Linked DNA regions of Homo sapiens: all the other regions are linked to region 4. Evidence: fine-mapped expression QTL. A gene starts in region 4. Each other region holds a variant in brackets. All regions are shown on one strand. Distances are from middle to middle.

Region 1 (6,481 bases), 270 kb after region 4:
AGTCTGAATTTTCTGATTTTTCTTATTATTCCTGGACTCATATTAAAATATATGATTCATACCATTATGATTGTCTGACTAATGATTGCTTTGAAAATTAAGCTTAAATATAAACTAACATTTCATTTAAATTGATTGTCTAGAACTTTTAATTTTAAAGAGCTCAGTAATTTTCTCTTACATTAGACCCTGGCTACCCTAAGATTGAAAGATTGAATTATTTTTATTTATTTATTTATTTTTTGAGATGGAGTCTCCCTCTGTCGCCCAGGCTGGAGTGCAGTGGTGCTATCTCGGCTTACTGCAACCTTTGCCTCCCGGGTTCAAGCAATTCTCCTGCCTCAGCCTCCTGAGTAGCTGGGATTACAGGTGCGCGCTACCACACCCAGCTAATTTTTGTATATTTAGTAGAGACAGGGTTTCATCATGTTGGTCAGGCTGATCTCGAATTCCTGACCTCGTGATCTGCCCGCCTCAGCCTCCGAAAGTGCTGGGATTACAGGCATGAGCCACTGTACCCAGCCCTGAATGATCATTTTTAGTTCAAGGAACCCAGCTCTGTTAGTTATGTAGTTTTGATCATGACCTTTCTAAACAGGCTTTTCTTTGGCCTTAAAGATATCCAAAGAGAATCACACAATCTCTCTGTTGCAGGATTTAACAATTTCTACAATTTTGTCCCTTCCTCCTTTGATTTCCTTCCTTTTTTCAACTGATATTTATTGAAAATAGCTTCTGTGGGCATCAGGCTTGGTTCAAGGCACTGAAAACCAGAAATAAAAGGTACAGGCTCTGGGCTGGGCGTGGTGGCTCACGCCTGTAACCCCAGCACTTTGGAAGGTCAAGGTGGGTGGATCACCTGAGGTCAGGAGTTCAAGACCAGCCTGGCCAACATGGCGAAACCCTGTCTCTACTAAAAATACAAAAATTAGCTGGGCATGGTGGCACGTACCTATAATCCCAGGTACTGGGGGGCTGAGGCAGGAGGATCGCTTGAACCTGGGAAGTGGAGGTTGCAGTGAGCTGAGATCGTGCCACTGGACTCCAGCCTGGGCAACAGAGCGAGACTCTATCTCAAAAAAAAAAAAAAAAAGATACAGACTCTGCCTTTGAGGCACCTGGAGTCTAATGGTAAAGATGGACAAGTAAAAGACTGTTGTGCAGTGTGATCACTTGTCTGACAGGGCTAGCTACAGAAATCTAAGGAAGCACCAAAAAGGAGAGGGAAGGAGGTGAGACTGCTTCTCCAAGGAAATGAGAAACATTGGGTCTTGTTGAGTAGGACGTTGCCAAGTAAAGAAGGAGGAAAAGAGCTGGCCTCGGTAGAATCCCATGTATAGAATCCCATATATGAAGGCATGTGAAGGGGATTGTTTTCAGGAGTCTATGACAGGTATGTTCCCTGCATATGAGGGCAGTGGTGAGAAGTGATACCAGCAGGAAAACAGGAGCTGCTCTGACCTTACCTGCCATTCTAAGTTTATTCCAAGAGTAGGGAATAAATTCCAGTAGATGGTGACTAGCTTATACCTTTTCTTCCATCATTTCAGTTACTTAATTTTTTTTTTTTTTTTTTTTTTTTTTTTTTTGCCTCCACAGAGATAGGGAATCTCTGATCACTATTATAAAGTCACACTTACATATATATTAAATTGATTCTCACTCAGCTTTCTCTTTCTTTTTTTTTTTTATTTTTTTTTGAGATGGAGTCTTGCTCTGTAGCCCAGGTTGGAGTGCAGTGGCGCGATCTCGGCTCACTGCAAGCTCCACCTCCCGGGTTCCCGCCATTCTCCTGCCTCAGCCTCTTTCTTTTTAGAGTCCTGACAATTTTAATATTTTACAACAAATCTTAATTCTTTTGTTAAGTGAAAAGTTTAACATACTGCTAATATTGTTATCTTCAACCCATGTCATACCTACCTTAAAAACTCAGGATTTGGGTGGTGACTTAGTTCATGTTTAGAGACATGGATGGTTTTTGAATTACCTTAATCTGCCAGTTAAGGTTCTTGCCAGGAAAGAAACCATAGAAATGTTTAATCTTTCTTCACATTTTATCCTGTTTGCTCTTATGTGGTTAGTACTATATGTTGAATATAGTCAAGTATTGCTTTTGAAGAAAGAAAGTAAAATTTCCCCTTTCTCTGAATCCTAGGGCTCCGGTACAAGTCATCCACAGATCAGGAGCACCAGTTCTATCCCTGCTAAGTGTCAGAGATGGATTCATTGCTAGCCAAGGTGGGTCCATGGGCCAATTGAGAGAGATGCTTCTCTGTAGTTCAGTTAATTAAACATAGTTTTAAGTGTCTGATCTATGGCTGGGTTGGGGCATGGTCCCCCATGATTCTTTGGCATATTGTACCTATCAATAGTGTTTATCACTCTACGTTGTGATTGTCTGTGTCCCCCTCCAGTTCAAACTCCTTGAGGGTGGTGACTGTGCCTTATTCATTGTGTTATTCCCAGAATTTAGCTCAATGCCCACCACTCTTCTGCCTTAAAGGAGCTCACAGTAAGGCAGACAGACGTGTGAACATTTGATTGCAGTCCAGTTTGATAAGGACTACATCAGAAGACTGCATGAGGAAATGAAGAATAGCTAATTCTAGAGGTAGGAGTGCTGTCAGCAAGGTCTTCGTGAACTACGTGACATGTAAACTGATAAAGATTTCACCCACTGGAGATGTAAAGAGGGACACTGAAAGCTGAAGCTATTGTATATGCAAAGTCATAGATGAGGCAAGCGGGGGCAAAAGAAGAAGAGCACTAGCATTTCCAGAGGGCCTGCTATGTAGTAGGTACTGTGTTTGATGCTTTACATACATATTCTAGGTAAAGCGAGTATCTTAATGTAGCCAGGACAAACTCTTTGGAATGGAGTTCAGGAATGGTGTTGGGGAAATGCCTGGAGCAAAGTGTACATTAAGGGACACTGGATCCTTGTAGGAATGATGTAGGTCAGGAGGACTGGACTATACAGCCTGGAGGGACTACCTACCTACCTTGAGCATTTCAGTATGTCAGTTAGGATGTTTTGGGCTGTTATTTACAGAACACCCAGCTGAATATGGTTTAAACAGTTAGGAAAGGATACTGCTTCACTTAACAAGAAGTCCAGAGTCCATTTCAGATTATATTAATTTAGTGATTTGAAAATAAAGTCAACCAAAGAGACTAAGGAAACTTGACAACTAAGTCAGTGGTATTCTGGATTGGATCCAGGATGTTAAGGAAAGACTGGTGAAAAAAAAAAAGCATGCTGTTTAGGTGGTAGTAGTGTACCAATATTGGCATCTTAGTTTTGACAAATGTAAGGTGATAACATTTGGGAAAACCTGAAACTGATTAAGGGCATATGGGAACCTTCTGTATTATCTTTAACTAACTTTTCTGTAAACCTAAAGTCACTCCAAAATATAATATTTTTTATAT[A/T]TTTTTTTAATTTAAAAAACAAGTAGGCTGGGCACAGTGGCTCATGCCTATAATCCCAGCATTTTGGGAGGCTGAGGCGGGAGGATCACTTGAGCCCAGGAGTTTGAGGTCAGCCTGGGCAACATAGGAGACCCTGTCTCTACAAAAAATAAAAATTAGCCAGGCATGGTGGTTCATTTCTGTGGTCCCAGCTACTCAGGAGGCTGAGGTGGGAGGATCACTTGAATCTAGGAGGTGAGGCTGCAGTGAGCCATGATTGTGCCACTGCATTTCACCCTGGGTGACAAAGCGAGACTCTGTCTCAAAAATAATTTTTTCAATTAAAAAAATATTAAAAAGATAGTGACTGGGCGTGGTGGCTCACACCTGTAATCCCAGCACTTTGGGAAGCTGAAGCGGGTGGATTCCTTGAGGTCAGGAATTTGAGACTACCCTGGCCAACATGGTGAAACGCTGTCTCTACTAAAAATACAGAAATTAGCTGGCATGGTGGCACACATCTATAGTCCCAACTACTCAGGAGGCTGAGGGAAGAGAATCACTTGAACCTGGGAGGTGGAGGATGCAGTAAGCTGAGAGCACGCCACTGCACTCCAGCCTGGGTGACAGAGTGAGACTCTGTCTCAAAAAAAAAAAAAAATTAAAAATTAAAAAATAAGGTTGGGTGTAGTGGCTCACGCCTGTAATCCCAGCACTTTGGGAGGCCAAGGCGGATAGATCACCTGAGGCCTTGATATTTCTCGCCTCCTCTGTCCTATCTACAGGCCATTTTACTGATTATTAACATCTCTGGCTGGGTGCAGTGGCTCACATCTGTTATCCCAGCACTTTGGGAGGTCAAGGCGGGTGGATCAGCTGAGGTCAGGAGTTTAAGACCAGCCTGGCCAACATAGCGAAACGCCATCTCTACTAAAAATACCAATATTAGCTAGGCATGGTGGTGTGCACCTGTAATCCCAGCTACTTGGGAGGCTGAGGCAGGAGAATCACTTGAACCTGGGAGGTGGAGGTTGCAGTGAGCCAAGATTGTACCACCGCACTCCAGCCTCAGCGACAGAGTGAGACTGCCTCGCAAAAAAAAAAAAAAATCTCTGTTGCAAGGTGATGTGTGGGTTATATGAGGAGTGTAGGTGGAGAAGAGCTGACTCATGGTTCTACTTTTTGTACTTTTTTTTTTTGGAATGTTAGAAATTTCTTTATTATTACTTATTCTTACTAAGCGCCAGCTTAATGCTGCAGAAAATTTCAAATCACTGTTGATAACCCACTTTCTTTTCTCCCACCCAAATTCTTGATCAAGAGTTTTTCAAGTAAAGACATGGTCTTCTCTCTTCTGTATAAAACTTTATGAAATAAAGGCAAAAGATTCGTATATCTTGCTGGAAAATGCTGCCCAGGGCTCTGGAGATGGTGGCTGCCCGTGCTCCTTTCACTGTCCAGGTCTTGAAAGACTCTAGCATGAACTGTCTCTTCACAAAACAAGTCCACCACTTGCAGCGTTTATCATTCTGAGGGTCGAAAACTTTCTCACAAAGTCTCAGCCCAGTCTCTTGCCTTAGATGTTGTAAATAGGCCCTCATCACTTCATCTTCCTGTTTGTTTGCAGGTTTGGGATACATTGCATTAAGTGGAAAACCAGGTTCTCCAGGAATGGGAAAGTTAGTGATTCCCAGTGTATACATTTCTTTCTCACCTTGGCTTTTGGAATTGCACTTCTGGAGTTCCTTCAGACACTCAGAAACGTAGACAGAGATACGTATATCAAGGTCCTGTCAGCTTCATTCTTAACTTCATAGTTTTTGAAGAAGACATTGGCCTTGAACTAATAGATGGCTTCATCCACAGTATCTGTATCTTTTGTCTCTCTGGGGGCAGGTCCTTTGAATTGACTTCTGATAGGTAACAGTGCCATGTTTCCAATGAGTTCAGTGTCAGGATCCATGAGAGAAGAGTGGTAAGCTGGCATCTTGGTGGCGCCCGGGTTTCAACCCAGAGGAGCAGATTTTTTGTACTTTTCTACTTTTCTGCTGGGAAGAAGGCAAGGCATAACTTCCAGTACTGATGTCTAAAGGCAAAGGGAGTAAGATTATAACTCTGTTTTCAGAGGACAAAACTAAGACCAATAAGAGAAAGTTATCAGAAACCACATTTCAGTTAATTATAAAGGAAAAGCTTTCTTTTCCTTAAGAAAGAAGCTGCCCTTAAGGTAGTGGGCACCCCTAACTCTGGAGATGGGCAAGTGTAGGCTGTTTGGCCGCTCTGCCATGTGCTGTAGAGGGAGTTCTGTACTGGTTTAGAAGTTGGATATAGGCCGGGCACAGTGGCTCACACCTGTAATCCCAGCACTTTCGGAGGCCGAGGCGGGCGGATCACGAGGTCAGGAGATCGAGACCATCCTGGCTAACATGGTGAAACCCCGTCTCTACTAAAAATACAAAAAATTAGCCGGGCATCATGGCGGGCGCCTGTAGTCCCAGCTACTTGGGAGGCTGAGGCAGGAGAATGGCGTGAACCTGGGAAGTGGAGCTTGCAGTGAGCCGAGATCGCGCCACTGCACTCCAGCTTGGGTGACAGAGCGAGACTCCGTCTCAAAAAAAAAAAAAAAAAAAGAAGTTGGATATAGATGATTTTTGAGGTCCTTTGGAACTCTTTGATTATTAGTGAGGAGATTTAAGTTGCCAGATGAAACAAAATAAAAAACAAAATTTTTTGATGCAAATTGCCAAACATATCTAAAAGTAGACAGAATGGCACGATGAACCTGTTATACCCATTATCCAACTTAAGCTATTATCAATATATTGCTAATCTTGTTTTACCCATTCCCTTGCATTCCTCAGTCTTCATATATTTTGAAATATATCATGAGCGTCTTATTTCATCTGTTAGCATTTCTATATGTCTCTCTAAAAGACAAGGATTCATTTTTGGAGAAGGTGATTTTTAATAGTAATGCAAAAAAGGGTAAGGTACTACCTCGTATATGCTGCTGCTTGAATGTAGATTAACAGATAAATTTGGAAAACAGTTGTTCAGATTTCCAAAAAGT
Region 2 (6,481 bases), 170 kb after region 4:
TCCCAACTAGACCATGGATAGAGACATCTTACTTATATTTGCATTCTCAGGATGTGGCACTTTGGCACACATCAGGTCCTTATTAAAGTTTGTGGAAGGAAGAAAGGAAAGAAGGAGTAAGGAAACAGCATTGATGCATCTTTAGTGATAGAATATAAATTTTGCAAACTATGCAAATAAAATATGGGTTTCTAATTGTATTGAACATACTTTCTCCCTCCTTTTAGGTTTAGAACTTCAGGAGAGAAGCCCATCTATTCTGTAGGTAAGCAGTTTTTACCTGATGTAGTTGGCCTGCTTTAAGTGACCCTTTAGCACTCTATAATAATTTTGCCTAGAAGGAAGCCTACCATATCTTTGAGAACAGTGGCCTGAACCAAACCCCACCCCTCCATGTGAGCATGGAATAGAACCATGGGTGAGAACATCAAGTAGTGGCTAAGAGCAAGAGCTCTACAGTAAGTTTGGATTCCAACTGTACTACATATTTATTTGATCTTTGGCTATTTCTCTGTAGCTTGGTTTCCTCACCTTAAAAAATGAGCAGGCTGTGAGGCCGGGTGCGGTGGCTCACGCCTGTAATCCCAGCACTTTGGGAGGCCGAGGCGGGCGGATCACCTGAGGTCAGGAGTTCGAGACCAGCCTGGCCAACATGGTGAAACCCTGTCTCTACTAAAAATACAAAAAATTAGCTGGGCGTGGTGGCAGGCGCCTGTAATCCCAGCTACTCGGGAGGCCGAAGCAGGAGAATCGCTTGAGCTCGGGAGGCGGAGGTTGCAGTGAGCTGAGATTACGCCATTGCACTCCAGCCTGGGGGACAAGAGCGAGACTTCATCTCAAAAAAAAAAAAAATAATGAGAAGGCTGTGCAGCATGGTGAGACCCTGTCTCTACAAAAATTTTTTTAAAAATTAACTGGGTGTGGTGGCACAGGCTTGTGATCCTACCTACCCCAGAGGCCAAGGCAGGAGGATCTCTTGAGCCCAGGTTACAGTGAGCTATGACTGTGCCACTGCACTGCAGCCTGGGTGACAGAGCAAGATCCTGTCTCTTAAATTAAAAAAATTTAAAAAAAAGAGGATAATTGTAATACAAACTGTAGTGTACCATTTGAAGATTCAGTGAGACAAAAGATATAAAGTGCTTGGCCAGGTGCCTCACGCCTGTAATCCCAGCACTTTGGGAGGCCGAGGAGGGCGGATCATGAGGTCAGATCAAGACAATCCTGGCTAACCCAGTGAAACCCCATCTCTACTAAAAATACAAAAAATTAGCCGGGCGTGGTGGCACATGCCTGTAGTCCCAGCTACTCGGGAGGCTGAGGCAGGAGAATTGTTTGAACCCCGGAGGCAGAGGTTACAGTAAGCCGAGATCATACCACTGCACTCCAGCCTGGGCGACAGAGCGAGACTCCGTCTCAAAAAAAAAAAAAAAAAGATAAAATGCTCAAAAAGTAGCAGCTGTAATTATTATTATTATTAATACTGCTACTATTCCAGAACTGCCTTGTATGTCCATCATCAGGCTAGGGCTTTTCTCACACTGTTTAATCCAAAATGAATGTCCATTCAGTCTGATTAACTCAATGGATATCCATCTCTGTTTCAACCCAATTACTTGCCATTTTTGCTTTGTCTATTATGTGAGAAATTTCAATGGAGTTGTTGGATTTTAATGACGTTTGTCATGTGTCTGACAAGTATCAGAGATAAAGGAATGGAAGTAAGGAAGGGAACTAACATTTTTTACTCAGTGCCTACTGTGTGCAAGGAAGTGTGGAAGAGGCTTTACATATGTTAATTATTTTAGAAGATGGCGGCAATGTGTAGGGAATCACCATTTCTACTGGGCCCAAAGCCTAACATCTCAAAATAATGGGCTTCTTTTTATTTATACATTCTCTTGACAAACATGTATCTTACTAGACTGTGTGTTAGATGCTGGTGATACAAAATTAAGAGGATATAGTCCTTGCTATTTAGTAGTTTTAGAAGCTTATTTTTTCCCTAGGAATAATACAATGAACATTTCTTTACCCACTATTTAGATTCAACTTTTGTTAACATTTTGTCATGTTAGCTTCTTAAAAATCAGACATCATGATACTTTACGCTTGAATACTTTAGCTTGGGTTTTTAGAAATAAGGATATTTTCGGGCAGGTGCAGTGGCTCATGCCTGTAATCCCAGTACTTTGGCAGGCCGAGATGGGCGGATCACCTTAGGTCAGGAGTTCAAGACCAGCCTGACCAACATGGAGAAACCCCATCTCTACTAAAAATACAAAATTAGCCGGGCATGGTGGAGCATGCCTGTAATCCCAGCTACTCGGGAGGCTGAGGCAGGAGAACCGCTTGAACTTGGGAGGCGGAGGTTGCAGTGAGCCGAGATCGTGCCATTGCACTCCAGCCTGGGCAACAAGAGCGAAACTCTGACTCAAAAAAGAAAAAAGAAATAAGGATGTTTTCTTTCTTTATTTTTTTTTTTTTATTGTAATTTAAGTTCTGGGTTACATGTGCAGAACGTGCAGTTTTGTTACATAGATACACGTGCCCTGGTGGTTTACTGCACCCATCAACCCATCACCTACATTAGGTATTTCTCCTAATGTTATCTCTCCACTAGCCCCCCACCCCCCGAGAGGCCCTGGTATGTGATGTTCCCCTCCCTGTGTCCATGTGTTCTCATTGTTCAACTCCCACTTATGAGTGAGAACATCCAGTGTTTGTTTTTCTGTGGTTTTTGTAATAGTGTGGAGTGCCTGCAAAGGATATATTAAGCAGCCCATTGGATACACTGATCTTGAGCTAAAAATTTAGGTCTGAGTTGAAACTATAAATATGAAAGTCATTATTTTGTCAGTTTTAATTGAAGCCATGGGAATGAATGTGATCACTTAAGGAGAAAAGGTGGAGAAGAGACCCAGGGATCATACCCTGAGGAATTTCAACCTTAAAAATCTGGGTAGAGGGAGAAAGTCTAATGAAGCTGAGAAAGAGAGACCATAGTGGAGAAAACCTGGATAGTATAGTATCATGGCAGGCAAGAGGAGAGCGTTTCAAGAAGGAAAGAGTGGCCAACCATGTTACAGTTTCAACTGTGCTACTGAGAGACCAGGAAAAACATGAACATGGTAGTATCCTTGGATTTTAGCAATCTAGAGGTCACTGGTGACCTTAGGGAGGGTAGTCTAGGTAGGTGGGGTGGATGGGTTGTGGAAATTAACCATGAGGTGACAAGTGAATGAAAGTCCAAGAGTTAGGAAAAAAATGACTGTAGACAATGCTTTAAAAAAGTTTGAGACTGAATGGGTCAATAAAATATTGGCAGGAACTGAAGAGAGATGTAGGGTGAAGGAGAG[G/GT]TTTTTTTAAAAATTGTTTATCTCTTAATTATACTTTTTATTTTGAGAGATATAAAAAATATAGAAGAGTAAAAGAGTAATATGTCAAATAAACCCAGAATTGGCAACTATTAACATTTTGTCAGACTTTCATTGTCTTTTTTGTATTAAAACAAAAAGATCTATGTTCAAGTCATCATTATTCTCTAGCCTTGGTCTTATCCCTTATCCTTCTCAACCATAGGCAAAGTTTATTTTGAATTGGTATATATTCTGAGGAAAGTCTTTTAAAAAAATTATTAGGTTGGTGCAAAAGTAAAAATAATGGCAAAAACTGCACTTTTGCACCAACCTAATACTATTAAAATTATCACCTGTTAAAAAATTGAAATGGATGCATATGGGAAGAATAAACTTAAACTGTACAAAAGTGTATATGATGAAAAGTGAAATTTTATTGCCCTTTCCCAGTCTTTTTTTTTGAGATGGAGTCTCACTCTGTTGCCCAGACAAGTGCAATGGCGAGATCTTGGCTCACTGCAAGCTCCACCACCCGGGTTCACACCATTCTCCTGCTTCAGCCTCCCAAGTAGCTGGGACTACAGGCACCTGCCACCACGCCCCACTCATTTTTTGTATTTTTTAGTAGAGATGGGGTTTCACCGTGTTAGCCAGGATGGTCTAGATCTCCTGACCTTGTGATCCAACCGCCTCGGCCTCCCAAAGTGCTGGGATTACAGGTGTGAGCCACCGCGCCCGGCCCTCTTTCCCAATCTTAACTCCCTCATGATATCCACTGATAGCAATTTCTTGTGTATCTTTCAGGAAGATTTTATGTATATATGAAGATTTATATTATGTGTGTGTATGACTGTATCTTAATGCTGGACATTTAGGTCGTTTTTAGTTTTTTGCTGTTTCAAAAAATGGTACACCAGCCATTTTCGTATGTCTTTGTAAACTTGTTCCTGTACATTTGTAAGATAAATTCCTGGAATTGAAATTGCTGAGTCAATGCATTATGAATTGGAGATTTTGATAAGTATTGCCAGACTATCCACCAGAGAAGTTGTATTAATTTACATTTCTATTTTCCGGCCCAAACTGGGTTTTATAAAACATTTACTGTTAGCTGGAAGCACTGGCATGAACTTGTAGTCCCAGCTACATGGAAAGCTGAAGTCCCAGAATGGTCCTTTGAGCCCAGGAGTTTGAGGCTGTACCGCACTTTGATTTTGCCTGTGAATAGATGCCATACTCTAGCCTGGGCGACAGAGCAGGATCCCATGTCTAAATATATATATATATATATATATATTTATTTATTTATTTTTTATTGTTTTTGAGACTGAGTCACGTTCTGTCACCCAGGCTGGAGTACAGTGGCACGATCTTGGCTCACTGCAACCTCCACCTCCTGGGTTCAAGAGATTCCCCTGCCTCAGCCTCCCAAGTAGATGGGACTACAGGCATGCGCCACCATGCCTGGCTAATTTTTGTATTTATTAGTAGAGACAGGGTTTCACCATGTTGGCCAGGCTGGTCTCTAATTCCTGACCTCAGGTGATCCACCCACCTCGGTCTCCCATAGTGCTAAGATTACAGGTGTGAGCAACTGCACCTGGCCTAAAAAAATAATATTTTTTTTGTTAGTGAAAATTATGTCTCATTTTAATTTGTGTGTCTTGAATTTGTCATCTTTTCATATGGTTATTTGCCATTTGTATTTGTTTCCTAATGAATTGCCTATTTATTTACTTATTTTTGAGACAGAGTCTTACTCTGTCACCCAGGCTAGAGTGCAGTGGCATGATCTTGGCTCACTGCAACCTCTGCCTCCTAGGTTCAAGTGGTTCTCCTGCCTCGGCCTCCTGAGTAGTTGGGACTACAGGAATGTGCCACCACGCCTGGCTAATTTTTTTGTATTTTTAGTAGAGACAGGGTTTCACCATGTTGGTCAGGCTGGTCTCTAACTCCTGACCTCAGGTGATTCACCCACCTCGGCCTCCCAAAGTGCTGGGATTACAGGCGTGAGCCACTGTGCCTGGCCCATTTATGTTTTTTTGTCAATTTTTCTATTGGATTGTTTACTTTTTCATTTTTGATTTGTAAGAACTTTTAATATAGTTCTTATATATTAAGGAAATTAGCATTTCTCTGTTACATATGCTTGTACTTTTTCTAGTCATTTATCCCTTGACTTTATGTTTGTGTTTTCTCCATTAAACAGAAGCTTTAGATTTTTATATAGTTATGTTTATTAATCTTTGATTTCTAGATTTTGTTTCATGCTTAAAAAGGTCTTTTCTACCCTAAGATTATTTTTAAAAATCCATGGCTGGGCATGGTGGCTCACGCCTGTAATCCCAGCACTTTGGGAGGCCGAGGCGGGTGGATCACAAAGTCAGGAGATCAAGACCATCCTGGCTAACATGGTGAAACCCCGTCTCTACTAAAAATACAAAAAATGAGTGGGACGTGGTGGCAGGTGCCTGTAGTCCCAGCTACTCCAGAGGCGGAGGCAGGGGAATGGCGTGAACCCGGGAGGCAGAGCTTGCAGTGAGCCGAGATCTCGCCACTGCACTCCAGCCTGAGCGACAGAGTGAGACTCTGTCTCAAAAAAAAAAAAAAAAAAATCCTTCATATTACCTTCTGATAAATATTTTTTCTTTTCAATATGTGGTCCAGACCAGGTGTAGTGGGTTACGCTTATAACCTCAGCACTTTGGGAGGTTGAGGGGAAGATCACCTGAGCCCAGGAGTTTAAGACCATCCTGGACAACATAGGGAGACTCCATCTCTACAAAAAAAAAATAATTAGCCTGGTGGGATAGCGAGTGCCTGTGGTCCCAGCTACTCAGAAGACGAAGACTGAGGTGGGAGGATTGCATGAGTCAGACTGAAGTTGCAGTGAGCTATGATTTTGCCACTGTGCTCTAGCCTGGAAGACAGCACGAGATCATGTCTCAAAAAGAAAAAAAAAGAGTGAGGTGGGGCACGGTGGCTCACGCGTGTAATCCCAGCACTTTGGGAGGCTGAGGCCAGTGGATCACCTGAGGTCAGGAGTTCGAGACCAGCCTGGCCAATATGGTGAAACCCCATCTCTACTAAAAATACAAAAATTAGCCAGGCATGGTGATGCA
Region 3 (6,481 bases), 780 kb after region 4:
ATATCATTGAGACCTCAATTTGCATTTTTCCAATTTCCAGTGAGGTTTATTGTATTTTCATATGTTTATTAGCCTCATGTGTTTCTTCTGTGATATGTTTGATTATGTCTGTTGTACCTTTCACTATTGTACTATTTCCTTATTAATTGGTAAGAGTTTTTATATATCCTCGATATTTGTAGGATCTTTCAGCTTGTTGCTTGTCTTTTCACTTTCTTTAACGTGCAATCTTGGTTCTTAACCTCAGAACATACACAATTTATTTAACCACTCTCCTACAGATGGACGTTTTTACTGCTTCCAATATTTTACCATTATAACAATGGGACCTTAGATATTCTTGTATCTATATTTTTGGGAACATGTGAGAGTATCTACAGGAAAAACCCCTAGAAATAGAGTTAATGCTGACAAGGGGTATGTGCATTTTAAGTTTTGACAGATACTGTCAAATTGCTCTCCCTAGGAGCTGTGCTTATATTCCTACCAACTGTGAGAGTGCCTCTTACCCTACATTCTCTCCAACATTGTAAAAAATGGTCATCTCGATTTGCATTTCTTTTATAGTCAGTGAAGATGAGTTAAAAGCCCTTTGACATAATATTTTTATACTGTTATGATACAAACTTATATGCAGGAAAAATGAATAATGTTGGAACAGGTGCATCAGTCTTTTATCTGCAGGGTGAATATACAACCTTTGTGTAGATTTTTGTTTATTACTTGTTCTTTATTTTGGGCCTATAAAATGTAAAGTTGGACGATGATGATTAGAGGATTTTCATAAGATCATTGGCTTTGGCGCAAATCCAAGCACATTATGCAGGTAGTTTTAAGAAGCCTTTGAACTCATGTTTTTTTCCTTCTTTCAAGCATATCATATTTATTATAATGTATCAGGTAGAATAATGGCCTTCCAAAGATGTCCATATCCTAATTCCTGGAGCCTGTGAATATGTTCCCTTACATGCCAAAAGGGACTTTGCAGATGTGATCAAGTTTAGGATCTTCAGATAAGGAGCATTATCCTAGATCATCCAAGTGGCACCAGTGTAATCACAAGGGTCATTAACAGCAGAAGAAGGAGGAAGAAGAGATCAGAGAATGAAATATAATGATGGGAGCAGGGCCAGAGTCATGTGCTATGAGAACCTATCATTGCTGGCTTTAGAGAGAGAAGAAGGGCCCATGAGCCAAGGAAATCAGGAAGCCTCTAGAACTCGGAAAAAGCAAGGAAATGGATTCTCCCCTGGATCCTTCAGAAGGACTTCATCCCTCCTGACACCTTGATTTTGACTCTATGAGACCCATTTTGAACTTCTGACCTCCAGGCATAAGATAATAAATTTGTATTGGGTTAAGTTATTGAGTTCATGGTAATTTGTTACAGCAGCAATGCACAACTAAAACATATAGAAAATAAACAATATAAGCAAAATAAAGAAAATAAAAACTTTATGTGGTCCTTTCACCCAGAGAAGTATTATCAGTATTTTGGTATGTATCTATGGTTTTGTGCTTTTTTTTTTTTGAGACAGAGTCTCGCTCTGTCACCCAGGCTGGAGTGCAGTGGCATGATCTCGGCTCACTGCAACCTTGGCCTCCCGAGTTCAAGCAATTCTTCAGCCTCAGCCTCCTGAATAGCTGGGACTACAGGCGCGTGCCACCATGCCTGGGTAATTTATATATTTTTCTAGTAGAGACGGGGTTTCACCATGTTGACCAGGCTGGACCGGAACTCCTGACCTTGTGATCCACCTGCCTTGGCCCCCCAAAGTGCTGGGATTACAGGTGTGAGCCACCACGCCTGGCTGGTTTTGTGTATTTTTAAATTACACAAATAATTTTATACTTTATGCTCTTTTTGTAACTTGCTTGTCTCAGTCAAAATTACATTTATGGGATATCTTTATGTTGATAATGTAGCTCTCATTCATTTATTTAAAATTATGTATAATATTTCATGATAAGAATTCACCATGTGCAGCTGCTGGGAACCTGAAGGTACTGGGTAGGTGCAGGCTGAGCAGACAGGGCTCTGGATGGGTTCCCAAGCAGTGAGGAGAGATGGATCAAAACTACAGACCAACGATTCAGGCCTGGGGAGAGAAGGAAAATAGTATCAAGACAGCATCATTAGGTGACATTATAGAAAATGGCACAGTAGGGTGCTCAAAGAATTGGTGCTTCCACTGAAACAAACATAAGCTATCAAAGACTGACAGAATCAACTTTTTGGGACCCTGAAATATCCAAAACTTACAGGAACCAGGGGAATGCTTAATAAGGAAAAGGGCAGTTGACTTTTGGTAAGAGAGCACTATGGCTTTTTTTTTTTTTTTTTTTTGAGACAGTGTCTTGCTCTGTCGCCCAGGCTGGAGTGCGGTGGCGCAATCTCGGCTGTCTGCAACCTGCGCTTCCCGGGTTCAAGTGATTCTTGTGCCTCAACCTCCTCAGTAGCTGGGACTATAGGCATGCGTGACCACGCCCAGCTAATTTTTTGTATTTTTAGTAGAGACAGGGTTTTGCCATTTTGGCTAGGCGGGTCTCGAACTCCTGACCACAGGTGATCTGCCTGTCTCGGCCTCCCAAAATGCTGGGATGACCATGCATTCCCAGGACCATGTGCTTGCACAGCCAGGCATGGTGGCGGGCACCTCTAATCCCAGCTACTTGGGAGGCTGAGGCAGTAGAATGGCTTGAACCCGGGAGGTGGAGGTTGCAGTGAGCTGAGATCACATCATTGCACTCCAGCCTGGGCGACAAGAGCAAGACTTTGTCTAAAAAAAAAAAAAAAAAAGAAGAAAAGAAAAGAAAAGGCCTTAGAGGATCATAGGCTTGGCACCTCTGGAAGATCTGTGGGCTCCATGCATACAGGAAGTAAAGGCAAAGGCAGACCTGTAGGTGGCCTGGTGTAGGGGTGAAAAAAATGTCCCCACTCACAACCAAGATGCAAAGACCAGAAGAGTAGTATTTTTTTCTCTTTTTGGCTCTGAGTACTTAAGGAAATCTTTGTTAGGTCACTTCACTAAGCACTGAGATAATGGAACAGAGGCTTTGGTAACTGCACATGACAAGGAATACACTCTTTCCAAAAACAGTTTGAAAGCATCATTAAATAAATGGATGGCTACAGTCCTCAACAATTAACAACAGCAAACTTGGGGAAGGGGGAATATCTGACTTCCAGAGTTACCACATTAATCACATTATATTATTTAAATGCTCAGTTTTGTGTGTGGGTTTTTTGTTTTGTTTTGTTTTGTTTTTTTGAGTCAGAGTCTTGCTTTGTCATCCCGGCTAGAGTGCAGTGGTGCCATCTCAGCTCACTGCAACCTCTGCCTCCCAGATTCAAGCAATTCTCATGCCTCAGCCTCCTGAGCAGCTGGGAGTACAGGCATGTGCCACCATACCCAGCTAATTTTTGTATTTTTTGTAGAAATGAGGTTTTGCCATGTTGACCAGGCTGGTCTTGAATTCCTGGTCTCAAGTAACCAACCTCCCTCGGCCTGCCAAAGTGCTGGGATTATAGGCATGAGCCACCACACCCAGCTGCAAACGCTCAGTTTTCAACAAAAAATTACAAGACATGCAAAGATAAATCAAAGAGTGGCCCATTTAAAGGAACGAAATAGTTAGACAGAAACTGTCCCTGAAGAAGCCCAGACATTGGACTTAGTAGACAAAGACTTGAAATCAACTGTCTTAAATATGCTCAAAGAGCTAAAGGAAACCATGGACAAAGAATGAAAGGAGGCCGGGCGCAGTGGCTCACGCCTGTAATCCCAGCACTTTGGGAGGCCGAGGTGGG[C/T]GGATCACGAAGTCAGGAGATCGAGACCATCCTGGCCAACATGGTGAAACCCCATCTCTACTAAAAAAACAAAAATTAGCTAGGCATGGTGGTACGCACCTGTAGTCCCAGCTACTCAGGAGGCTGAGGCAGGAGAATCGCACCACTGCACTCCAGGTTGGCTATAGAGCTAGACTCCGTCTCAAAAAAGAAGAAAAAAAAAAGAATGAAAGGAGGCCAGGAAAACAGTGTGTGAACAAAATAAGAATAGTAATTAAAAAAAAAGAGTCATATAAAGGAACCAAATGGAAATTTTAGAGCTGAAAAGTATAATAACTGAGGATAAAACTTATTAGAGGGGTTCAACAGCAGATTTGAGCAGGTAGAATACTCAGTGAATTTAAGAGGACAGTTAAAATTATCCTATTTGAGGCGCAGAAAAAATTAACCTCAAGGTATCCAGTCCTTTATTGATAGACACTCACACTGTTTCCAACTTTTCCCTAATAATAAGCTATGTTACATTGAACATCCTTGTGCACCTTGGGCATATATGCAAGAGTTGCCTTAGGACAATGGTTCTTAACCTTAGCAGCATATTAGAGATTAAAATTTAAACACCTGATTCACATTTCCAAGAGATTCTTGTTTAATTGGTCTGAAGTGGAATCTGAATTTTTTTTTTTTTGAAGCAGGATCTTGCTCTGTTGCCCAGACTAGAGTGCAGTGGTGAGATCATAGCTCACTGTAGCCTCCAACTCCTGGGCTCAAGCAAAATCCTCTTGCCTCAGCGTCCCATGTAGCTGGGATTAGAGGCAAGAGTCACTGCACATGGCTATCAGTATGTTTTTTAAAAATTTCTTTCAGGCAACTGAGAACCACTCAATTGGGTATATACGTAGATGTGGGATGATCAGGTCACAGGATAGGCACGTCTTCACTTTGGTAATACTGATAAATTGTCCTTCAAAATAGTTGTATCAATATACACTCCCAATGACAACATATCAGAGTTCCCATTTCCCCACATTCTCACCAACACTCTGTGTTTTTATTATTTGCCAATTTGGATGAGTGCCAAATTGTATGTCATTTTTGTTTTAATTTGTATTTTCCTGGTTTTTAATGATGTTGAGCATTTTTGTCATGTATTTATTGGTCTTTGGGGTTCCCTCTTCTGTGAATTGCTTTTTTAAAAACATCTCTTGTCCATTTCATAATTGTCATTTATCTTTTTCTCATTGATCTGAAGGAATTATTTATATATTCCGGATATAATCCTTATTGCTTTGTTGTTGGCAAATATCTTTTCCCAATTTATGACTTGTCTTTTCGCTTGGTATTTGTAACATACAGAAGATTTCAGTTTAATATAATCAGATTTAGCAGTCTTTTCCTTTCGGTTTGTGCACCGTGTTTTCTTTTAAAAAATACTCTCTTAATTCTAATATCATGAAGACATTTTTAATATTTTTGTGATAGAATATTATAATAATGACTCCAGTGAATCACAGCATCCTGTATGCACATTCTTATGTAGTTCCCGCCCACATTGACTCTGGACTTGGCTAAATGAACTCTGTGACCTGCTCTGGCCAAGCCAACTTTGATGTAAATTGATGTAAGCAGAGATTTGAAAAGTGCTTGTGCATTGAAACTTGCATCTTGCATCTCAGCCACCTTCAGGCTTGCCTGCTGGAGACAGTGGCCTAGTGAATGGCCAGCACCAGCTGCCAGACATGTGAATGAGGCTATCGTAGACCTCTCTGGTCAAGCTGATCCTCCCAATGACTGCAGCATGGTGAAAACACTATAAGCAGCACCCAGCTCAAATTTCTGACCACAGAATTGAGAGCAAATAAAATGGTTGTTTTAGCCACTAAGTTATGGGGTTGTTTGTTACGGAGCAATAGCTAAATAATACAATTTTCTTTTTTTTAGAAAAGAAACCCTTCTTCTTAAGTTTTGCTTCTCAGACTTGGATTTATAATTCATCTGCAATTTATTTTTGAGTATGGTAAGAGACAGGGGTCTTATTATATATATTATACATATATAAAAATTTCATATTTTTTCATAAGATTAGCCTATTTTTCTAGCACCATTTATTAAATAATCAATTTTTCCATTTGAAATGCTATTTTTTTTTTTTTGAGACAGGGTCTTACCCTGTCACCCAGGCTGGGAGTATAGCAGCACTATCTTGGCTCACTGCAACCACTGCTTCCCCAGTTCAAGTGATTCTCCTGCCTCAGCCTCCTGTTAGCTGAGATTACATCGTGTGCCACCACGCCTGACTAATTTTTGTTTTTTGTTTTAGCAGAGATGGGGTTTCACCACGTTGGCCAGGCTCGTCTCAAACTCCCGACCTCAAGTGATACGCTCGCCTTGGCCTCCCGTGGTGTTGGGATTATAGGCGTAAGCCACTGCACCCGGCCTGAAATACTACCTTTATTATACAGCTAGTTCTAACACATCTTGGTCTTTTTCTAGGTTCTTTGTTTTATTACTTATTTAGCTATCTCTGCACCAATACCACATTGCTTCACATATTACGGCTTTATACAGTTTTCATATCTAATAGGAAACTTACTAATATGCCTATCCAATATGTCGTCTTTTCTCCCATCTTGATTAACGGAATATCAATTTTATTTGGTGTAGCCGTGTCTTCAGCTCCAGGCAATGGAT
Region 4 (6,481 bases):
TAAATAAAACACGATATATCCATAAAATAGAATATTATTCATCAGTAAGAAGGAATGGGCCAGGCGCAGTGGCTCAGGCCTGTAATCCTAGCAGTTTGGGAAGCTGAGGAAGGAGGGCTGCTTGAGCCTAGGAGATGGAGACAAGCCTGGGCAACATAGCGAGACTCGGTCTCTGCCAAAAATACAAAAATTAGCCAGGTGTGATAGCATGTGCCTGTAGTCCCAGCTACTTGGGAGGCTGAGGTGGGAGGATTGCTTGAGCCAGAGAGGTTGAGGCTACAGTGAGATCGCACCATTGCACTCCAGCCTGGGTGACAGAGTAAGACCTTGTCTGAAAACAAAAACAAAAACAAAAACAAAAAACAAGGAATGAAATACTGATAACATGCTACAACCTGGATAAACTTTGAAAACATTATGCTAAGTGAAAGAAGCCAGTCACAAAGGGTCACACATTGCATGATTCCATTTATTTTTTAAAACTATTTATTTATTTAGAAACAAGGTCTCACTCTGTCACTGAGTCTGGAGTACAGCAGTGCAGTAACAGCTCACTATAACCTCAAACTCCTGGCCTCAAGAGATCCTCCTGCCTTCACCTCCCAAATCACTGGGATTATAGGTGTGAGCCAACTGCGCCTGGCCCATGATTCCATTTATATGAAATGGCCAGAATAGGCAAATCTGTACAGAAAGAAAGCAGATTAATTTTGCCAGGGACTTGGGGGGAAGACAGATTGGGAGTAACTGCTAAAGACTATAGGGTTTCTTTTCTTTTCTTTTTTTTTTTTTTTTTGAGATGGAGACTCGCTCTGTAGCCAGGCTGGAGTGCAATGGTGTGATCTCGGCTCACTGTAACCTCTGCTTCTCGGGTTCAAGTGATTCTCCTGCCTCAGCCTCCTGAGTAGCTGGGATTACAGGTGCGCGCCACCACGCCCAGCTAATTTTTGCATTTTTAGTAGAGACAGGGTCTCACCATGTTGGACAGGCTGGTCTCGAACTCCTGACCTCAGGTGATCCGCCACCCTTGGCCTCCCAAAGTGCTGGAATTACAGGCGTGAACTACCATGTCTGGCCTAGGGTTTCTTTTTAGGGTGATAAAAATGTTCTGAAGGCCAGGTGCGGTGGCTCACACCTGTAATCCCAGCACTTTGGGAGGCCGAGGCGGGCAGATCACGAGCTCAAGAGATCGAGACCATCCTGGCCAACATGGTGAAACTCCATCTCTAAAAATACAAAAATTAGCTGGGCATGGTGGTGCACGCTTGTAGTCCTAGCTACTCGGGAGGCTGAGGCAGGAGAATCACTTGAACCTGTGAGGCGGAGGTTGCAGTGAGCCGAGATCACACCACTGCACTCCAGCCTGGTGACAGGGCAAGACTCCATCAAAAAAAAAAAAAAAAATACCCACTGAATTTTTTACTTTAAAAGGGTGAATTTTATGGTAGGTGAATTACATCTCACTAAAATTATCACTTTGGCCGGGCGCAGTGGCTCACGCCTGTAATCCCGCTCTCAGGGAGGCAAGAGGCGGGAGGATAGCTTGAGCCCAGGAGTTCGAGACCTGCCTGGGCAATATGGCGAGACCCCGTTCTCCAGAAAAAGGAAAAAAAAAAAAAGACAAAAAAAAGCGTAAAATTATCACTTTAAAGTGTTTTCTTTTCTTTTTTTTTTTTTTTTTTTTTGAGACGGAGTTTAGCTCTTGTTGTCCAGGTTGGAGTGCAGTGGTGAAATCTCGGCTCACCACAATCTCTGCCTCCCGGTTCAAGCAATTCTCCCGCCTCAGCCTCCCTAGTAGCTGGGATTACAGGCATGTGCCACCACACCCAGCTAATTTTGTATTTTTAGTAGAGATGGGGTTTCTCCATATTGGTCAGGCTGGTCTCGAACTCCCGATCTCAGGTGATCTGCCCGCCTTGGCCTCCCAAAGTGCTGGGATTACAGGCATGAGCCACAGCGCCCGGCCATTTAAAATGTTTTCATAAGCACTTTTACTTTTGCTCAAATTGCATCTTGATATAAACTTCAAGTTTTTTAAAATAAAGATAATATAAATTATTCTCATTATATTATACTCTCTAGAAAATGTAAGTAGTAAATTTGAATTTGATGAGCCAGTCCACTATTTCCTAAACAATGTATTATCTGTGGGCTGTTCATTCACCAGGGACACTTGAAATGGCAAAATCTTTTCCTCTCTGCCAATGGTTCTGTGCACCATAGCCACAAAGAAATGTAAAAGTTACTTGTTGGCTTATTAGTCTCAATAAGTTTTAGTTGATTGAACAAACAAAGTCTCTCACAGCCAGGACTGCTGCGGCTGGAATTCCTGACATACTGTCATACCTCTCACTCGTCAATCTACACTCTCCTCCCATCTACACAGCTCTGGAAATTAAAAACAATCCAACCATGACTATCATGGCTTCAGAGGTCTATGAACTCCCAGGAATTATACGCAGATTTTTTCCTGAGGACAGTCTACACTTCCTTATTGGCTTCTCAAAGAGGGTCACTGACCAGCTTTTAGAGACATGGGCCAAGTCCGGCTACGTTTAGATTCGGTAGTAGTGTCTGTGGTTTTAGTTTGCCACGTCCTTTCCTCTTTTTTTCGTCATAGTGCCCGCTCTTTGGGAGGTAGGGGAGAGTCTTCCCCTGAAGTCTCCACTGCTGCTGGAGAACCTTCCTTTTTCATCTGGTTGCTAAATCCAGAGAATGAAATCTAGGAGATGATTGCACCGTCCCCGCCCCTCAACATGAAGGATGCCCCACTGCCCATCGGGGAGGGGAGCAGGGAGAGCTGGAGAGAGGCTGGGTCGGGGCAGGACCCAGGCGCAGATCCTCCGAGGCCAGCTGCAGCCCTACCTACCTGCCTTCCCGTCTTTCCCCTCCCTTCTTTTCTCCTTCTGTCTTTCCTTCCTTCCATATCTCTTTCCTTGCCTCTTTCCCCCTCCCACTGCTTCCTTTCTTCCTTCCACTGTGGAGGTGGAAAATTTAGCTAGGAGAAGCTGGGACTGGGACGTTCCAGGAACCAGACAGAGAGTGAGTTAAAGGCACAGAGATGAAAACGCGGTATGGGAGAGCTGGTTCTTGAGTCGGCTAAGAGGGGATGAACTCAATGGTTAATAGGATTGGCCATGGCGAATCCCTCAGCAGGGCACGCACCGCACAAAGGGCCGAGGAGCGAGGGTAGCTCGAGGTCAGGATTACAGAGACTCAGGAGCAAGAGAGGAAGGCTTAAAGAGCCAGACTGCGCAGCCAGGACTGGGGTGATGGGCGCTGTCCTGCCAGGCCAAAGAATGAAGATGTAGCCCCGCCCCCAACCTAGGGAGGAGGACCAGCCCGGTTCCTGTCCTGCCCCCGCAACCTCGCCCCGATTCCACTCCGGGAACCTCGGCGATGCTGAGCCAAGACCACTTCTGAATCAGGGATGACTTGTCTAGTGAACCTAGGGTCAGAGCCATCAGTTGGAAAGGCTGGGAGGAGCCTGGAGAAAGAGGGCGACCTTCCTTGGGATCTGTGCGCTCCCTCCTTGCCTCCCCCTCCAGCCTCCCACTTGGTAGCACCTTCCTGATCCCCTTATCTCTAAGGCGCTCAGGGAAATGCCCCGCTGCGGGAGCCTTCTGGGAAATGCTGCCCTGGCCACCCAGGAACCATGAGCCCTGCAGCCCCGGTAAGGAAGAGTTCTCTGGGACAGGAGGAAGGGCCCAGGGCAGGGTGGGCACCCTTGCCACATAGGGGACGGGACAGAAGTCTTTTAGGCCCTGACATCCTCTGGTCTCTGAATGACATCCTGTGGCTGCTGGTAGGTGAGGGTTTGCGGGGCTGAGCTATTGAAGGAAATGATCACAGTCCGAGGTGATAGATACAGAAAGTCTTCCTTTCTCCAGGTGGGCTCCCGCCAGTCCATTCTTCACTGTGCCCTAGAGGGGCCTTTCCGACCCCCTAATCACACACCTCACTCCTCATCTTGAAACTCCCACCCCCAGCTCCAGTCACTGCGTCCTAACATCCAAGCTCTCCGCCTGTCATGCAAGGCCTCTGTGCTATTTCTTTCCAAACCCTGCAGCTCTATCGCCTGACACTCCCGATGCCCTCCCCACCCCTGCGCTTTATGTTCTAGACACACGGAAATGCTGGGCACTCTTCAACATCCTGACAGTATTCATAGGGGAAATTTCGGGTCGCCTAGGAAACTGCCCCTCATCCTCCAAGGCCCCTTTCAGCCTCCTCTGGGAAGCCTTCCTGAACCCCTTGAGAAAAGTCAGGCTCATCTTTTCCATTGTTAAATCACACCTTGTGCTCCAATTGTGTGTTTCCATGTAATCTCCCTCACTAGACTGGAAGCTGGGGATGGAAAGGGGAAGCATCAAAAAAACATGCAAAACTAGGAGCTTGGCTTCTCCTTGCAACTTTACTTTTTCTTTTTTTCTAGGAACTGAGTTCAATGATTCTTAAGAAAAAGTATTTCATGATAAATGAGTGAACAAATGTCTTAATAGAAAAGTAAAATTGCAGGCGGGGCTGCTTCTGCCCAGCTCTACAGGGGTAGACTACAAGTCCCAGTACGCCTCGGGTCAGCATCTCTTCACGTCACTCCCCCTCCCTGGGGTGGGCAGGTCCGGAGGGCGGGGCCCGGGGGCAGCTGGGCTCTCAGGCGCTGCGGGAGGAGAGAAATGCCCCAGGCTCTCCGGGGCACACAAAGCGCAGGCGCAGCGGGTTGGGTGGCAGCAGCATCGAGTAGCGGCCGCTTAGGCAGCAACATCCGCAACAAGTGTAGACAAGGTGGGTGCATCAAGGGGAGGGGCTGGAAAAGGAGTCTGCACCTGACCCTCTTGTCTGATCTGTGTCAAGACCGTGGAGAGGGGAGGGAGCGGCAAGAGGAACAGACAAGGCTGGGCCTTCCAGCCCAGGTGTGCCAGCCCTTGTTACGCAGCAACAGGTGTGAGCAGGTGGGGGAGGGGCGGAGGCACCCGCTGGCAAGTGAGTCGCCCTCAGGAACAGAGGGCACCTACCTGGATTCCAGTGCAAGCTACATCATGTACATGGATGAGTCATTTGCTAACCCTCAGTTTGTCCATCTGTAAAACAGGAGTAAGGATTCCCTTCCTAACAGGGTTAGAGTGGGGACAAGGTGAGGGAGTAGAATGTGCGGTGACGTCCAAACTTAGCTGTACATTGGAATCATCTGAGGATCTTTGAAGAGTATCAGGGCTTGCCTCCTGCCCTCAGACATTCTGATTTAATTGTTACGGAGTGTGGCCTGGTATCGGAAGTTCTCAAAGCTCCTGCCGGCATAACGGTTTGAAGCCAGGACTGCTGGGTGTGAGTCTGGGCTCCATTGCTTACTAATCAAGTGGCCCCGTGCAACTGACTGGACCTTTCCGGCCCCCGTTTCCCCATCTCTGAAATAGGAATAATAAGGACTGCAGGGAGGCTTAAATGAGATAATGGATGAAAGCACTGATAGGGGGTACCCGGACAGAGTGCTCGGTCCATCACAGCTGCTGTTGAACTGCTCTTTGAAGCACTTTGTAAACAGCTCTAGTGGGGTCCAAATAGGAGGGAGCTTTTCCCTCATCCATTGCCGTGATTCTAATATTCTGCACTTCCACATTACAGAATCCCAAGGTTTCTAATACTTTAAGAGTCTCATGCTCCACCGACTGAGCTAGTCAGGCATATTCTAATGTTTCAAGAGCTCCTCCCTCCAGCCTCTGCCTGCCTCACAGACACACTTCTACAGATCTAGAAACTGAGACCAGGACAGAGGGCCAGGGAGGAGGGATATGGCCAAAGTTACCAAGCTGAGGCTGGAATCCAGGCTCCTGGTCCCCACCCCCACCCCACACCAATGGCTGCCCTGCTGACCCCACAGTGACAGTGCTCCCATTCTCTTCCTGAGCAGAGAATGGGGAGGAGGCCGAGGCCGCCTGGCCCTTGTTTACTAACCCTCCCTCAAACGTTTCCTGGGTGGCTCCCCAGGGACGGCAGGGCTGGGGGCTTCTCTCCAGGGAGCTGCTGCTGAGGCCTGTGTCTCCCGTGGCTCCTCTGACAGGTCCCGCCTGACTCCGCTCTGGAAAGTCCTTTTGAAGAAATGGCCCTGGTGAGGGGCGGCTGGCTGTGGAGACAGAGTGAGTGATCCTGGGCCCCTGGTCCTGGGGCAGGGTGAAGGAAGTGGCTTACTGGGCTTGCCACGGGGAACACTTCTCTCAAGAAACCAGGACCTTTTCATCCTTCCCTTGTTTGTCCATGCTCTTCCCTCTGCCTGAAGGTCCTTCCCATTCCCGACTACATGGTTTAAACTTCTATTTGTTCATCACGACCCATCTCAGATGGGCCCCTCTCTGAGGAGCCTTCTCTGGCTTTTCCTCTGGCCCCCACCCCTGCTCCTGCAGTAGCGTCAAGCTGGATTAGAGGCTCCCTCCTCGGTTTTCACGGCGCCTTACAGTGATCTCCTTAGAACAGAACTGTCTATCTG
Region 5 (6,481 bases), 45 kb after region 4:
GTGTATCATATCAGGAGGCACCTTATGCTGGTTTGTGCCCTTACTGGTGAAGTGAATTTTAGCCACTTGGTTAAATTAAGGTAGAGCTGGTCAAGTTTCTTCACTGCCAAATTACCAACTTTCCTTTTGTGATTAATAAGTATGAGAGGAGATTCTCTGCAATTATGTATATCTCTTATCATTCTTTGTCAAATTTTCACTTTAAGGTTTTAATACCAATTGGTGATTTTTGCCCAAATAAATCATTACTGTGACTTCTGAAAAAAGATTACTAAATATCCTTTCATTGTCTCATGGTCTGCTGAACTCTGGATCTAGGCTGGGTCAGTAGGGCTGTGCAGTGCCTCTTGTGCCTGTCTCTGTCTCTTGAAGTCCTATTTACCATCTCTGGAAGGCTTAGTTTGCAGTCTCAACAGCGGGGTAGACTCCCAGGAAGAGAGAGACAGATTTGAGCCTAGTTGATGATATATAAAATACAATGAATTAGTCTCTGTGTCCATCACGTTCTGGCTCCGGAGAAATAAGAGAATTGCTAATGAGTTGGTGCCATTCTGTGTACTTTCTATATCTTGAACTCTTAAGAGATCTTGTCCCTGGGTCTTCTGCTAAGGATTTACCACCTGACTCTAGTATAGTATCACATTACAGATAAAGGAAATCAAAATATCTTACCCCCAAATAACATTCTTTTTGCCATAAATAGCCCTGCAAAGGGCCACTTTGTGAAGAGAAAACTTGCATCTGTAAAACATTTCTATTTACATAAGTAGATTTTTTCCCCTTCCAGGTTCTCCCAATCCTGAAGAGATTAACTCAGAGTCTAGCAACTTTTAAAGGTCTAAATAAGAAACACTTGCCACCAGGCAGTGGCTCACTCTTGTAATCCCAGCACTTTGGGAAGCCGAGGTGGTTGGATCATTTGAGCCCAGGAGTTCCAGACCACCCTGGGCAACACAGGGAGACCTTGTCTCTATAAAAAATTAGCCAGGTGTGGTGGTAGGCTCCTGTAGTCCAAGCTATTCAGGAGGCTGAGGTGGGAAGAGCATTTGAGCCCAGAAGTTGAGGCTGTAGTGAGCTGTGATTATGCCACTGCACTCCAGCCTGGAAGACAGAGGGAGACCCTGTCTCAAGAAAAAAAAAAAAATTGCTTCTAAGGGCAGCCACCTATGAGACTTCATTTACATCAGCGATCCCCAACCTTTTTGGCACCAGGGACCGGTTTCCTGTAAGACAATTTTTCCATGGACTGGGGTGCAGATAGTTTTGGGATGAAACTGTTCCACCTGTGATTTTCAGGCATTACTTAGATTCTTGTAAGGAGTGTGCAACCTAGATCCCTCCAATGTGCAGTTCACAATAGTGTTCATGCTCCTAGGAGAATATCATGTTGCCATTGATCTGACAGGAGGCAGAGCTCAGGCTGTAATGCTGGCTTACCTGCTGCTCATCTCCTGCTGTGTGGGTTGGTTCCTAACAGGCCACGGACCAGTATTGGGCTGTGGCCCAAGGGTTGGGGACCCCTGACCTACATCGTAATAACCTTGGTCTCCACAACCTTTTATCTTAGCCTAGACACTCCTCCTTTCTATTGATTCCAGGTCTTTAGATAACTCTTTCAACCAATTGCCACTCAGAAAATCTCTGAATCCACTTATGACCTACAAGTTCCCCTCAACCCCCACCACCACTTTGGGTTGTCCTACCTTTCCAGACCAAACCAATGTCTATGTCATATGTACGGACTGAGGTCTTATGTTTCCCTAAAATGTATAAAACCAAGCTGTAACCCAACTACTTTGGGCAGATGTTCTCAGAATCTCGACTGTGCCTCTGTGGAGGTTGCAGTGAGTGGACATTGCAACACTGCACCCCAGTCTGGGCAACACAGTGAGACTCCGTCTCAAAAAAAAAAAAAAAAAAAAAAGACCGACTCAGGCATGATCACTCATATTTGGCTCAAAATAGACCTCTTTAAATATTTTACAGTTTGGCTTTTTTTGTCAACACTCTGGAGGAGGGGAAAACTTCTTTTCACATGGTGTAAGGCAGAAAGGGTAAAAGCCTATTTCCATAATTTAATACAGCATTTAATGTGCATATAGAAAGAGCATAGAATACAAGCCCAGAAAGAAACTCTACTATTAACTACCCCATTATTACAGCTTTGTAATCTCAAGGATATTTACTATCTCTAATTCTTAGATTCATTCTAATAAAAAGGGGATACAGTTGTGAAGTTCAAAGGACACAATGATGATGCTTCTCCTTGGAATACCCTCCCAGTTCAATTTGCCTAGCTGACACTCATCCTTCAGGACCCATTCCTTGATAACTCCTTAAAAGCTTCTCTAACTCACTCCCCAGTTCCTTAAATCTTCTTCCTCCTGTCTAATAAAATCTTTTTAAAAAATACACTGTCTCACTGTGTTGCCAGGCTGGAGTGCAATGAAAATGTGATCATAACTCATGATAGCCTTGAACTCCTGGGTTCAAGCAATCCTCCTGCCTCAGCCTCCTGAGTAGCTAGGACTACAGGGATGTGCCAAGGCACCCAGCTAATT[C/CT]TTTTTTTTTTTTTAACATTTTCAAATAATTTATTAGGAATTTAAAACTGAAAATAAAACCTGGAAAAAGAAGTTACAGATGTGGAGAGAAGAGACACCGGAGGGTGGTAACTTGCTGGCTTCGAAATACCATGTAACATCTTAAAAAAAAAAAAAAAAAAAACCCAAACAAATCAGCAAACGGAATTCCAGGGTTCTGAGCCCATGGTTGGGTCCAGTGGGGTGGAAGGGTCCGGGTATGGGGGACAGGGAAGCTAAGTGTCTCTGGACTCAGCTCAAATGTGTAGAAAATTAAAAATAAAAACCAACAAAATGCAGCTTCTTTTATTAGGAAACATTAAAAAAAAAAAACCCAAAACACGAACAGCCGCATCTCAGTAACAAAGATTACTGCTTTGTGTTCTCAGGCCTGATAGGTTAAGCACCTCACACAGAAAATTAACTCTCCAAAGGCGGGGTTTTTCGGGGGTGGGGGGGCGATGCTGGGGAAGAGAGCTCAGGCCCTGGGCCTTAGAACTAGGGGACAGGGACACACAGAAAGGGGATGGCAGTGAGTGGGCCTTGGGCCTGCCACGCCAGCCAGGCCACTGTTAATGAAGGTCCAATGCCCTGAACTTCTCTTTTTTCCTTAGAAGGGGGCTCTGGGGTGAGGGGCTGCCAAGGGACTCTGGCTGTGGGGTCATCCTGGTGGGAAACTTCAGTGAGAGAATGTGGGGGTTCCCTGAGACGCCTTTTGCTTTCTCCTGGGGTCTGCCCTCGCCAGAGCATCCCCTGGGCACCCAGCTAATTCTTTATTTTTTGTAGGGATGGGGGTCTTGCTGTATTGCCATGGTCTCAAACTCCTGGCCTCCCAAAGTGTTGGGATCACAGGCATGAGCTACCATGCCCAGCACTAAAATATATACTCCAAGTAGCACCAGTAGTTCTTTCAGAGTTATTTACTGCACTGATTGTAATAGCCTATTTTTACTTCTCTATCTTTCCCTCTAGACTTTAAACTTCTGGAGAGCAAGGCTCTCATTTCATCTTTGTTATCCCAGTATCTGACATGCAGTAGATATTTTTCAAAATGTTAGCTAAAACAATAATTAAGGGGTGTGAAAACACATTAGGAAGCAAAAAGTGGCCAGGCACGGTGGCTCACGCTTGTAATCCCAGCACTTTGGGAGGCCGAGGCAGGCGGATGACCTGAGGTCAGGAGTTCAAGACTAGCCTGGCCAATATGGGGAAACCCCGTCTCTACTAAAAATACACACGCACACAAAAAAATTAGCTGGGCATGGTGGCTTGCGCCTGTAGTCCCAGCTACTAGGGAGGCTGAGGCAGGAGAAGCACTTGAACCTGAGAGGCGGAGGTTGCAGTGAGCCGAGATCACATCACTGCACTCCGGCCTGGGTGACAAGAGCAAAACTCTTGTCTCCAAAAAAAAAAGAAAGCAAAAAGTGCAGCACAAATGTTTATATTAGTGCCTTTACTTGCTGGCTGTTGGGTACCTATTGAACGTTAATTGTCAGATTAATTCTTTGGGTATAACTATCCACAATACTACTCAGCAGACCAACACAGACTTCAGAGAGCTTATTTTCATATCAAGTCAAAGAAAATCTGGCAATACTTATGCCCACTGAATCCTCCTGACCTCAAAAACAGAGCAAAAAAAGAAATCAAGGCCGGGCGCAGTGGCTCACGCCTGTAATCCCAGCACTTTGGGAGGCCGAGGTGGGCGGATCATGAGGTCAGGAGATCAAGACCATCCTGGCTAACAGTGAAACCCCGTCTCTACTAAAAAATACAAAAAATTAGCCGGGTGTGGTGGCAGGCGCCTGTAGTCCCAGCTACTAGGGAGGCTGAGGCAGGAGAATGGCGTGAACCCGGGAGGCGGAGCTTACAGTGAGCCGAGATTGCGCCACTGCACTCCGGCCTGAGCGACAGAGTGAGACTCTGTCTCAAAAAAAAAAAAAAAAAAAAAGGAAAGAAAAAGGAAATCAATTTATTCAGTTCTAATGGAAAAAGAAGTATAAAAGGGATTTCAAACTTACATGCATAAGAGGGTTACAGTGAGGGAAAACTCTGACTAAATTAGATGAACGTCAACTTGATAATAAACAAATGCCTGCCGGGCGCGGTGGCTCACGCCTATAATCCCAGCACTTTGGGAGGCGGGCGGATCACAAGTTCAGGAGATCAAGACCATCCTGGCTAACACGGTGAAACCCTGTCTCTACTAAAAATACAAAAAAAAAAAAAAAAAAAAAAATTAGCCGGGCGTGTTGGCAGGCGCCTGTAGTCCCAGCTACGCGGGAGGCTGAGGCAGGAGAATGGCGTGAACCCAGGAGGTGGAGCTTGCAGTGAGCCGAGATCGCGCCACTGCACTCCAGCCTGGGCTACAGAGCGAGACTGTCTCAAAAACAAAACAAAACAAAACAAAAAAACAAAAAACAAAAAAAGCCAATTATGAGTATCTTCAATTAAATATAAAAAAAGGATTTAATGGCTGGGCACAGAGGCAGATCACCTGAGGTCAGGAGTTCAAGACCAGCCTAGCCAACATGGTGAAACTCCGTCTCTACTAAAAATACAAAAATTAGCCATGCGTGGTGGCACACGCCTGTAATCCCAGCTACTCAGTAGGCTCAAGCAGAAGAACTGCTTGAACCTGGGAGGCAGAGGTTGCAGTGAGCTGCGATCACGCCACTGTACTCCGGCCTGGATGACAGAGCAAGACTCCGTCTCCAAAAAATAAATAAATAAATAAATAAATAAATAAAGGATTTAAGGATTTAATTAACATAAGCAAATATAATTGGAATGAATGAAAGTTAAGAGACCAAAAGATTAACCAGTAGGTACATGAATCAGAGAAATATGTGTTTAAAGAAAGCAACAGGGCCAGATGCAGTGGCTCACGCCTGCAATCCCAGCACTTTGGGAGGCTGAGGCGGGTGGATCACTTGGAGTGTAGGAGTTTGAGACCAGCCTGGGCAACATAGCAAGACTCCATCTTTTTTTTTTTTTTTTTTTTTTAAAGAAGAAAGAAAAGAAAGCGACAGGCTGGGCGCTGTGGCTTATGCATATAATCCCAGTACTTTGGGAGCCCAAGGCAGGAGATCACTTGAGCTCAGGGGTTCAAGACCAGCCTAGTAACATAGTGAGACCTCGTCTCTACTAAAAATTTAAAAAATCAGGTGTGGTGGTGGACGCCTGTAGTCCCTACTTGGGAGGCTGAAGTAGGAGGACTGCTTGAACCCAGGAGATGGAGGCTACAGTGAGTTATGATGGCGCCATTGCACTCCAGCTTGAGACTGTTTCAAAAAAAAAAAAGCTAGGTAAGAGTAATAGGTTAAAGTGATCCCACTGGCCCTCCCCCATCCTTATTTTTAACTTTGAAAGTTATTAGAAATACCTCAGGAAAGCTTTCTTGAAAGGTTATGTGTGAAGTCTTTCCCTCTAGACTAGTGGTTCTCAATACCTATGCGGTATCAGAATTACCTGGGAAGCTTAAAAACAAACAAAACTCCAGATGCTTGGGCCTCACCCTCAAAGACTGATTCAACTGATGTGGGGTGGGGCTGAGCCATTCGTGTTTTATTCAAATATCTCTGGATGATTCTAATGTGCAGCTAGGGTTAAGAACCAATGCTGTAGTAACAATTTTTAAGGGTGTGAAACAATCAAATCAAAGAAGGGAAGAAAAGACACTGAGTACTTACTCTGTTGGAATGTTTACGTATTTTCTCATTTTAATCCTCTTATTTGTGAGGAAAATGTTAATAACCCCATTTTAAACAAATCTAAGGCTAAAGAATTTGCCATAGACCAAATAAATGGCAGAGCTGAGATTCCAAAGCTCGTATTTTTTATAATACCTAAGCTGCCTAGTATAAATGGAGTATTTTTTATATGGAAAGCACTGTGAAAGG

What was found. PIP is the estimated chance that this variant, and not a neighbour inherited with it, causes the effect.
Region 1: its variant is fine-mapped to the expression of PLEKHB1 in blood mononuclear cells (TOPMed, PIP 0.99).
Region 2: its variant is fine-mapped to the expression of PLEKHB1 in whole blood (INTERVAL, PIP above 0.99).
Region 3: its variant is fine-mapped to the expression of PLEKHB1 in whole blood (TOPMed, PIP 0.98).
Region 5: its variant is fine-mapped to the expression of PLEKHB1 in whole blood (INTERVAL, PIP above 0.99).

What each region holds. Positions count from the first base shown.
Region 1 is chr11:73,916,795-73,923,275 of GRCh38, forward strand. It overlaps PAAF1 (proteasomal ATPase associated factor 1), which reads left to right. Exons shown (of 12, transcript NM_025155.3): 10 at 2,156-2,238. It also overlaps the pseudogene ARPC3P4. Among named protein-coding and RNA genes, the nearest start is that of DNAJB13, 31 kb to the right of the region's middle. RefSeq lists a silencer at 3,718-3,930. The variant A/T (reference allele first, on the strand shown) is at 3,433.
Region 2 is chr11:73,808,086-73,814,566 of GRCh38, forward strand. MRPL48 (mitochondrial ribosomal protein L48) reads left to right here. Exons shown (of 8, transcript NM_016055.6): 3 at 228-265. Among named protein-coding and RNA genes, the nearest start is that of MRPL48, 23 kb to the left of the region's middle. The variant G/GT (reference allele first, on the strand shown) is at 3,360.
Region 3 is chr11:74,422,220-74,428,700 of GRCh38, forward strand. No RefSeq gene overlaps it. Among named protein-coding and RNA genes, the nearest start is that of MIR548AL, 26 kb to the left of the region's middle. The variant C/T (reference allele first, on the strand shown) is at 3,812.
Region 4 is chr11:73,642,954-73,649,434 of GRCh38, forward strand. PLEKHB1 (pleckstrin homology domain containing B1) reads left to right here and starts at 3,628. Exons shown (of 8, transcript NM_021200.3): 1 at 3,628-3,673; 2 at 6,059-6,134. The coding sequence starts at 3,656. RefSeq lists enhancers at 3,193-4,111, 4,747-4,906 and a silencer at 4,487-4,706.
Region 5 is chr11:73,687,994-73,694,474 of GRCh38, forward strand. The region is part of intron 6 of RAB6A (RAB6A, member RAS oncogene family); the gene reads right to left. It also overlaps the pseudogene LOC268276. Among named protein-coding and RNA genes, the nearest start is that of PLEKHB1, 45 kb to the left of the region's middle. The variant C/CT (reference allele first, on the strand shown) is at 2,562.